2 linked regions of the Homo sapiens genome follow. The protein of the gene in region 1 purifies or fractionates together with the protein of each later gene. This does not show direct contact. Each region holds a gene or a part of one and is shown in the gene's direction. Other genes may lie near its edges.

Evidence for each region. The genes of interacting proteins can lie anywhere in the genome.
Region 2: the proteins of UBL4B (region 1) and AARSD1 purify together in Homo sapiens (affinity purification with mass spectrometry, with the first as the bait; one large-scale study listed by BioGRID). This does not show direct contact.

Annotation. Positions count from the first base shown.
Region 1 is NC_000001.11:110,111,004-110,114,447, forward strand, and holds UBL4B (ubiquitin-like protein 4B), read left to right. Parts: upstream 1-1,439; 5' UTR 1,440-1,531; coding exon 1,532-2,056; 3' UTR 2,057-2,944; downstream 2,945-3,444.
Region 2 is NC_000017.11:42,961,655-42,966,492, reverse strand, and holds the start of AARSD1 (alanyl-tRNA editing protein Aarsd1), read left to right. Parts: upstream 1-2,038; 5' UTR 2,039-2,052; coding exon 2,053-2,091; intron 2,092-2,255; coding exon 2,256-2,387; intron 2,388-4,838. Other genes in the region: PTGES3L-AARSD1 protein, read left to right, coding at 2,256-2,387. UniProt on the Homo sapiens protein: Functions in trans to edit the amino acid moiety from incorrectly charged tRNA(Ala).

The DNA of each region.
Region 1 (3,444 bases):
AAAACTGCCAAATGCTGCAGAAGTTGCAGACACAGAGGAGGCCCAATCAGTGTCCTTTTTCATATTCACCTTTGAGCCGGGGGTGCCTGCTCAGGGCCTGGGCCACAAAAGGCACTGAGCAGAGATTTGTTTAGGAGGCAACATGAGGTAACAGTGAAGACAAGAGCAATTCTGCCTGCTTGCTGTAGGATCAGCCAAGCCTCCACTTTCTCCTCTGGCAGATGGAGATCATGGCAGTGCCTGCCTCATAGGTTGAGAGGATTCAATTAGGCAGGCCTGTGATGCAGATGCTGTGGGCTGTCCTGCCCCATCCCCTCAGCACTCACATTCCTGAGGGCCCGATGGCTTCCTACTTTTCTGTGGTCACAGGAGCATGCTGCTTAACACCTGTGGACCAGAAGTGCCAAGGAGGTAGCACTTCTATTAGCCAAAGACAGGAGTCAGAGCATAAAGATGCAGGTTCGGCCAGGTGCGGTGGCTCACGCCTGTAACCTCAGCACTTTGGGAGGCCAAAGCAGGCAGATTGCTTGTGTCTGGGAGTTTGAGATCAGCCTGGGCAGCATGGAGAAACCCATCTCTACTAAAAATACAAAAATTAGCCAGGCATGGTGGCGTGCAGCTGTAGCCCCAGTTACTTGGGAGGCTGACACAGGAGAATTACTTGAACCCAGGAAACGGAGGTTGCAGTGAGCCGAGATCATGCCACTGCACTCCAGCCTGGGCAACAGAGTGAGACCCTGTCTCAAAAAACAAAAAAAAAAACAAAAAAACCACACCTGGTGCAACTCAGGTGTGTTCCATGCAACCTCCCAGAACTCCCCAGCAGGATAACATACTAGTTGCCCACAATGGCAACCTGCTCATGAATGCACGTTTTGATTTCCCTCCCGTCCTCATCTCACATCCTCACTCCCCTCCTGGTGCCTCCTGGGATCACCTCCTAATTGAGTACTTGTTCTCAAATCCCTGTCTCAGTGTCTGCTGCTGGAAAGCCCAATCCAAAAGAGCGTGTAAAGTGCTTGACAGAAAGAGGACGCTTGATAAATGCTAGCCAGCTCACTAGTGTGAAAGTGTCATGAAGGCAGAAGTCATCCATCTGAATATGACTGTCTCCCCAGGTCCAGGTGCTGGCACAGAGGTGGCACCTAATACACATGTGTTGAAGAAATCAATAGACATGCTCCTCCCACCACCCTGTCCTTTCCCTCCCTCCCTTTCCCTAGTCTCACTCTCATTTCCCCCAGTCCCACATTTTCTTTCCTAGTGCTCTTTTTCTCCTCTCGTGGAGGAAGGATGCTCTGGGCCCAAATACCCCTTTGCTGTCCCAAAAGTTCCACTCTGGAAATGAGCCCCCCCGCAGCATTGTGACATCACCGTGCACTAGCCAATGGCTGCCTGCCTAAGCTGGGTCCCTGGTCTCCTGGGACTACTAGCCCTTTGTTGATAGGGAGAAGCCAACATCTCCCGCAGGACCCCCTAATCTTCAGGGCAGCTCCCAGAGCATGGATCCCTCCTGATTCCACTCAGCCCGATGTTCCTCACAGTCAAGCTGCTCCTGGGCCAGAGATGCAGTCTGAAGGTGTCAGGGCAAGAGAGTGTAGCCACGCTGAAGAGACTGGTGTCCAGGCGGCTGAAGGTGCCTGAGGAGCAGCAGCACCTGCTTTTCCGTGGCCAGCTCCTGGAGGATGACAAGCACCTCTCTGACTACTGCATTGGGCCCAATGCCTCTATCAATGTCATCATGCAGCCCTTGGAGAAGATGGCGCTAAAGGAGGCCCACCAGCCGCAGACCCAGCCCCTGTGGCACCAGCTGGGACTGGTCCTAGCTAAACACTTTGAACCACAGGATGCCAAGGCCGTGCTGCAGCTGCTAAGGCAGGAGCACGAGGAGCGCCTGCAGAAGATAAGCCTGGAGCACCTGGAGCAGCTGGCCCAGTACCTCCTGGCAGAGGAGCCTCACGTGGAGCCAGCTGGAGAGAGGGAGCTTGAGGCGAAGGCACGGCCTCAGAGCTCCTGTGACATGGAGGAGAAGGAGGAGGCAGCAGCTGATCAGTAAACGGGCCATCCTACCCATTTGCATGCTAAAATTCTCCCGGCCTCATCCTTACGTGTTCCCTGGTGACTTTTCCTACTACTTCCTGCTGATGTGGATGCGTCCACACCCCTTTTTGAACCTTCCAAGCAGCTGGAGGGTTTTTGGATCCCTGTCCCCTCTTGGGCCTGAGGTCCTCCCTCTGAAATGCAGAGTGAACCAACCCTCATCACCATGCTTCCCCTAGAAGGGTTCTGATCACCGGAGGGCAGCCCCAAAGGCCACAGTCCCCTCCTGTGCTGGCAGCTTTGCCCACACATACCCAGCAGCTCCCCAGGCTGAAAGCAGCCCTGGCCCAGGGTCTCCATGGTTCTAGGCAGACCCTCTTTCTCCTTCGGGACAGAAAGACAATGTGAGTTCATTTTCCTCCATCCTCAGACCGTGACATCTCCCCTAGGCTCCCCAGCAGCCAAGAGGAGAGGAATGTCAGGTAGCTGCCCCTTGCCTTCTGGGTGAGGCTGCCCCTGCTGTTCTCCTGCTTGTGCTTCCAGCTTAAGGGACAGGCACAGCAGAGGTGAGAGTGGGAGGAGGGCACGTACCGGGTGCCAGCCCTGGAGCCCTCAGGGAGACAGACACAGACCAAGAATAGCAGGAAACTGAGCCTCAGGCAGAAAAAAAGTTCAGCAAAGTCATACACTCCCTGTGGCCAGCGTGAACAGAGCCATGCCCCACCCTCCCAGACTGATCAGTCAGTAGGTATCACAGCTCACATTACCTGCCCAGCGCTGCCCAAGGCTCCCTGGAAGGAAAAATGGTATCTGTCAATGAGGATCCTTGCCCTCACAGAGCACGCAGCCTAGATGCAGAGAGCTGCTATACATGTGAAAAGTAAAGTGGTGACATGAAACTAGAGTCTAGTGTGTGTGACTGAATGCACGGGGCCTCACGGGGCCCTGGGTTCAGCATAGAGGGGCCAGTCCCCTGCAGACTACGAGGAAAGCCAGGCCCTTTACTCTGTTCTTTGAGTGAGAGAGTGGCCCTTGCAGAGGCTGAGGAGTCCCCACACTCTGTGTGTGAGTGGGAGGGAGTGGGGAGCTGTGGTCCCCCATTCACTGCTGAAGCCCCTGAAATGCTGTTATTGCAAAAGTTTCAGTCCTGAGTGATGGGGATGGAGGGAAGGGGTGGAGGAGAATGTCTTGAACAAGCAGGGCCCCCTTCCCTAGGAAGCATCCTGTCCTTGGCCTGCAGGGCCCCTCATCCTCTCTTCCAGTCCGAGTCCAGCTGTGTGGCCATGGGTAACCTGCTTTTCCTGTCTGATGCTCAGGTTTCCCACCTGTTGCATGGGCATCCTTATAACAGCATCTACTTACCCCATGAGTGTTGGTGACGGTTAGAGGCAAAGACTGTCCAAC
Region 2 (4,838 bases), on another chromosome or scaffold:
CTCTTGCCTCGGCTCCCCTAGTAGCTGGGATTACAGGCGCCTGCCACCAGGCCCAGCTAATTTTTGTATTTTTAGTAGAGACGGGGTTTTACCACGTTGGCCAGGCTGGTCTAGAACTCCTGACCTCAGGTGATCCACCTGCCTCGGCCTCCCAAAGTGCCGGGATTACAGGCATGAGCCACCGCGTCCGGCAGTCTTTTACCATTTGCAAACAATATTGCAATCAACATTTAAAAATGTGGATCTTTACATATTTTTGCCAGGATATCTGTAGGGTACATTTCTAGAAGTAGAATTGCTAGGTCAAGGAGTAGATAAAATACATTTAAACATTTTGATAGCTGTTACCAAGTTGCTCTTTGATGAAATTGTACCAATTCTCACTCCTACGAACAATGAGAGTGTTCCATTCTCTAAATCGTTTCAGATATTTGACAAGATAAAAATTAGCACCTGGTTTAATTTGCTTTTTTTTTTTTTTTTTTTTTTTTTTTTTTTGAGACGAAGTCTCGCTTTGTCAGCCAGGCTGGAGTGCAGTATCGCGATCTCAGTTCACGGCAACCTCCGCCTGCCAGGTTCAAGCGATTCTCCTGCTTCAGCCTCCTTAGAAGCTGGGATGTAATCCCAGCCTGTAGGTGCCCGCCACCACACCGAGCTAATTTTTGTATTTTTAGTAGACACAGGGTTTTGCCATGTTGGCCAGGCTGGTATCGAACTTCTGGCCTCAGCTGATCCAGGCACCTCGGCCTCCCAAACTGCTGGGATTACAGATGTGAGCCACTGTGTCTGGCCCAAACTATTTTAATGTAATGTAATGTAATTTTCTTGAGACGTAGTCTCGCTGGGTTACCCAGGCTGGAGTGCAGTGGTACGATTTCGGCTCACTGCAACCTCCTCCTCTCGGGTTAAAGTGATTCTCCTGCCTCAGCCTCCCGTGTAGCTGGGATTATATAGGCGTGTGCCACCACGCCTGGCTAATGTTTTTGTGTTTTTAGTAGAAACAGGGTTTCACCATGTTGGCCACGCTGGCCAAATTGTTCTTCTTTTTTTTTTTTTTTTTTTTTTTTGAGACGGAGTCTCGCTCTGTCGCCCAGGCTGGAGTGCAATGGTGCGATCTCGGCTCACTGCAAGCTCCGCCTCCCAGGTTCACGCCATTCTCCTGCCTCAGCCTCCGGAGTAGCTGGGACTACAGGCGTCCGCCACCACGCCCGGCTAATTTTTTGTATTTTTAGTAGAGACGGGATTTCACCGCGTTAGTCAGGATGGTCTCGATATCCTGACCTCGTGATCCGCCCGCCTCGGCCTCCCAAAGTGCTGGGATTACAGGCGTGAGTCACCGCGCTCGGCCTTTTTTTTTTTTTTTTTTTTTTTTTTTAATTGAGACGGAGTCTCGCTCTGTCGCCCAGGCTGGAGTGCAGTGGTGCAATCTCTGCTCACTGCAACCCCGCCTCCCGGGTTCCAGCGATTCTCCTGCCTCAGCCTCCCGGGTAGCTGGGATTACAGGCGCCCGCCACCACGCCCGGCTAATTTTTGTATTTTTAGTAGAGACGGAGTTTCGCTATGTTGGCCAGGCTGGTCTCGAACTCCTGGCCTGAGGTGATCCACCCGCCTCGACCTCCCAAAATGCTGGGATTACAGGCGTGAGCCACCTCCCCCAGCTCCTTGCTTTCTATTTCTACTGGGCAGTGCTGCTCAGTAACCATGCCAGTCCCGTCCCCGCCTCTATGCGCTGGGATTCCGCAGCCAGAATACTTACATCCCTGGGGCCCCAAGGGGCTCACTAAACCACGTGCCTTGTCCAGGTCGCGTTTTTTTGTTTTTGTTTGTTTGTTTTTTTCCTCCTGGTCTTGTCCTTTGTAAAGCCTTAGAACAGTCGTTAAACAACCCAGCAAATATGCAATTCGCGTTTTCAGTAAATTTATCCAAACCGCATTCCATTCCTTACCCTCCTGCTTCTGCGCAGACAAGCGCCCTTGATGACGTTTGTCCCACGTCGCTCTCCGTTCGCTCCCAGGCTTCTCTGCGCGTGCGCCTCCTCACACGCCTGCAGGTATGGCGTTCTGGTGTCAGCGTGACAGTTATGCCCGAGAGGTACGGCGTCACGGCGAGGCACTTGAGACTGCCGGGCCGGCAAGGCGGTTTGGGGAAGAGGGCGCCACGTGTAGGGAGTGCCAACATGGCATTCTGTCCTGGTGTGGAGAGGGCTAGGGCTAGGGCTGGGGTCGGGGCTTATTCTCTCATTCCTCTCTGTTCAGTTCACCACCACCGTGGTCTCCTGCTGTCCCGCGGAGCTGCAGACTGAAGGGAGCAACGGCAAGAAAGAAGTGCTGAGCGGTTTCCAAGTGGTGCTGGAAGACACAGTGCTTTTCCCTGAGGGCGGGGGACAGGTACCAAAACGATCTCTTCCCAGGAAGCCCCCAGTTTCTTTGTGCTCAGGCCGAAATGCTCTCCTGCCCCTTTTTTCTCAGCCATAATGAATTCAGATGAGCTTTAGTTTAATTCATTTTGTTATTCATTTAATGAGTATTTATCAGCAATTGCTTATCTAGACATAACATATGCTAGATATTATTCCAGGCTGTAAGGATAACCGGTGAACAACACAGTGCCTTTATATACGTGGAATGTTTATTGAAGACAACTGTGTGTGCTAGGTATAATAAGTAATAAACAAAAACCAAGTAAAGGGAAAGAGAGTGATGGGATGCTTGTCTAGATGAAGGGTAAGTTATTTCAGTAGAGACCTAAACGAAGTGAGGGGGTGAGTCTTTGCAATTATCTAGTGGTGCTGGGGGGCAGAGGGAGTATTCAGGCAGGTAGAATAGCAGGTGCAAAGGCCCCAAGGAAGGAATTAGCTTCGGGTTTTAGGGACTGAAAAAGATGTTCCTGAAGGAGTTCAGGTGAGATAGACGGGTTACAGTAGTACAGCAGAGAGCATATTTATCAGTGCTGTGATGAGGACTAGGTACAACATGAGCGCAAGTGAGGTACATTGTGAAGATGGAAGAGGAGGATAATAACACCAAAGGTGGGCATTATGAGAAAGGCTTTTCTTTCTTTTCTTTTCTTTCTTTCTTTCTTTTTTTTTTTGAGACAGAATCTCTCGCTGTCATCAGGCTGAAGTGCAGTGGCATGATCTCAGCTCTGCAACCTCCGCCTCCTGGGTTCAAGTGATTCTCCTGTCTCAGCCTCCCAAGTAGCCTGACCAACATGATGAAACCTTGTCTCTACTAAAAATATAAAAATTAACCAGGCATACTGGCAGGCCCCTGTAGTCCCAGCTACTCGGGAGGCTGAGGCATGAGAATCACTTGAACCGGGAGGCTGAAGTTGCAGTGAGCCAAGATTGTGCCACTGCACTTCAGCGTGGGGGACAGAACAAGACTCCGTCTCAAAAGAAAAAAAAAAGGTGTATTAAGGTGTGTGGGCAGCGAACCATGCAGGTTATTTTCTTTCTTTTTTATTTTTAAGAGACAGGATCTTGCTATGTCACCCAGGCTGGAGTGCAGTGGCCTGATCTAGCTCACTGCAGCCTCGAACTCCCAGGCTCAAGCAATCCTCCTGTTTTAGCCTCTCCAGTAGTGGGGACTACAGGCGCACAACCAACATGCTTGGCTGCTTTTTTGTAGAGATGAGGTCTCACTTTATTGCCCAGGCTGATCTTGAGCTCCTGGCCTCAAACAGTCCTCCCACCTTGGCCTCCCAAAGGCTGGGCCTACAGGTGTGAGCCACTGCCCTGGCCTCCACTCAGGTTCTTAAGCAAATAAGTGACATGAGAGAACATGTTCAGTAGACTTGGTATTGAGAGAGTTCCAATTTCATATCAGTCATTATTATGGTGATTTTCCCAGTATGAAGATTTCCCTGATCTGCTGAAGGAAAACCTGTGACCTCAAGTATCCATAGAAGGTCTCATTTTAGACAGCATTTCTTTCAGGAAGTCTTTTTTTGATTCCCCAAGACTGTTAGGTCTCTTTCCTTTGAGGTTCTCTAGCGTCATATACTTTTTCATATTATGGCATGTTATAGGTCATATTGCAATTGTCTGTTTTCCAGCCTCTGTTCTCTAGACTCTTAAGTTCCATGAGGTACCATATCTTGTTTACATTGTATTCTTGGGCTGGCACAGTCTTTTGTAAGCAGTTGGCACTTGAAATGTTTTAAAATGAATGAACTTTTTTTTTTTTTTTTTTTGAGATGGTGTCTTGCTCTGTTGCCAGGCTGGAGCGCAGCGGCGTGATCTCGGCTTACTGCAATCTCCGTCTGCCAGGTTCAAGCAATTCCCCTGCCTCAGTCTCCCGAGTAGCTAGGACTACAGGTGTGCACCACCATGCCCAGTTAATTTTTTGTATTTTAGTAGAGACGGGGTTTCACCATGTTGGCCAGGATGGTCTTGATCTCCTGACCTTGTGATCCGCCCACCTCGGCCTTCCAAAGTACTGGGATTACAGGTGTGAGCCACTGTACCTGGCCCTTTTTTTTTTTTAAATGAGACAGTGTCTCACTCTGTCACCCAGGCTGGAGTGTAGTGGAGCAATCATAGCACACTGCAGTCTCAACCTTTTGGGCTCAAGTGATTCTCCCACCTCAGCCTCCCAAGTAGCAGGGAGTATCATGGCCAGCTAATTTTTTATTTTTCATAGAGGTGGGGTCTCACTGTGTTGTCCAGTCTGATCTCAAGCGATCCTCCTGCCTTGGTCTCCCAAAGTGGTGGGATTACAGGAATAAGCTACCATGCCCAGCCTAAATGAACATTTTTGAATCTAATTCTAATACCACTGCAAGAGGATGGAGTGGAGGGAGGGAGGAAAAATCAGATCATTTTAGAGACTACAAAA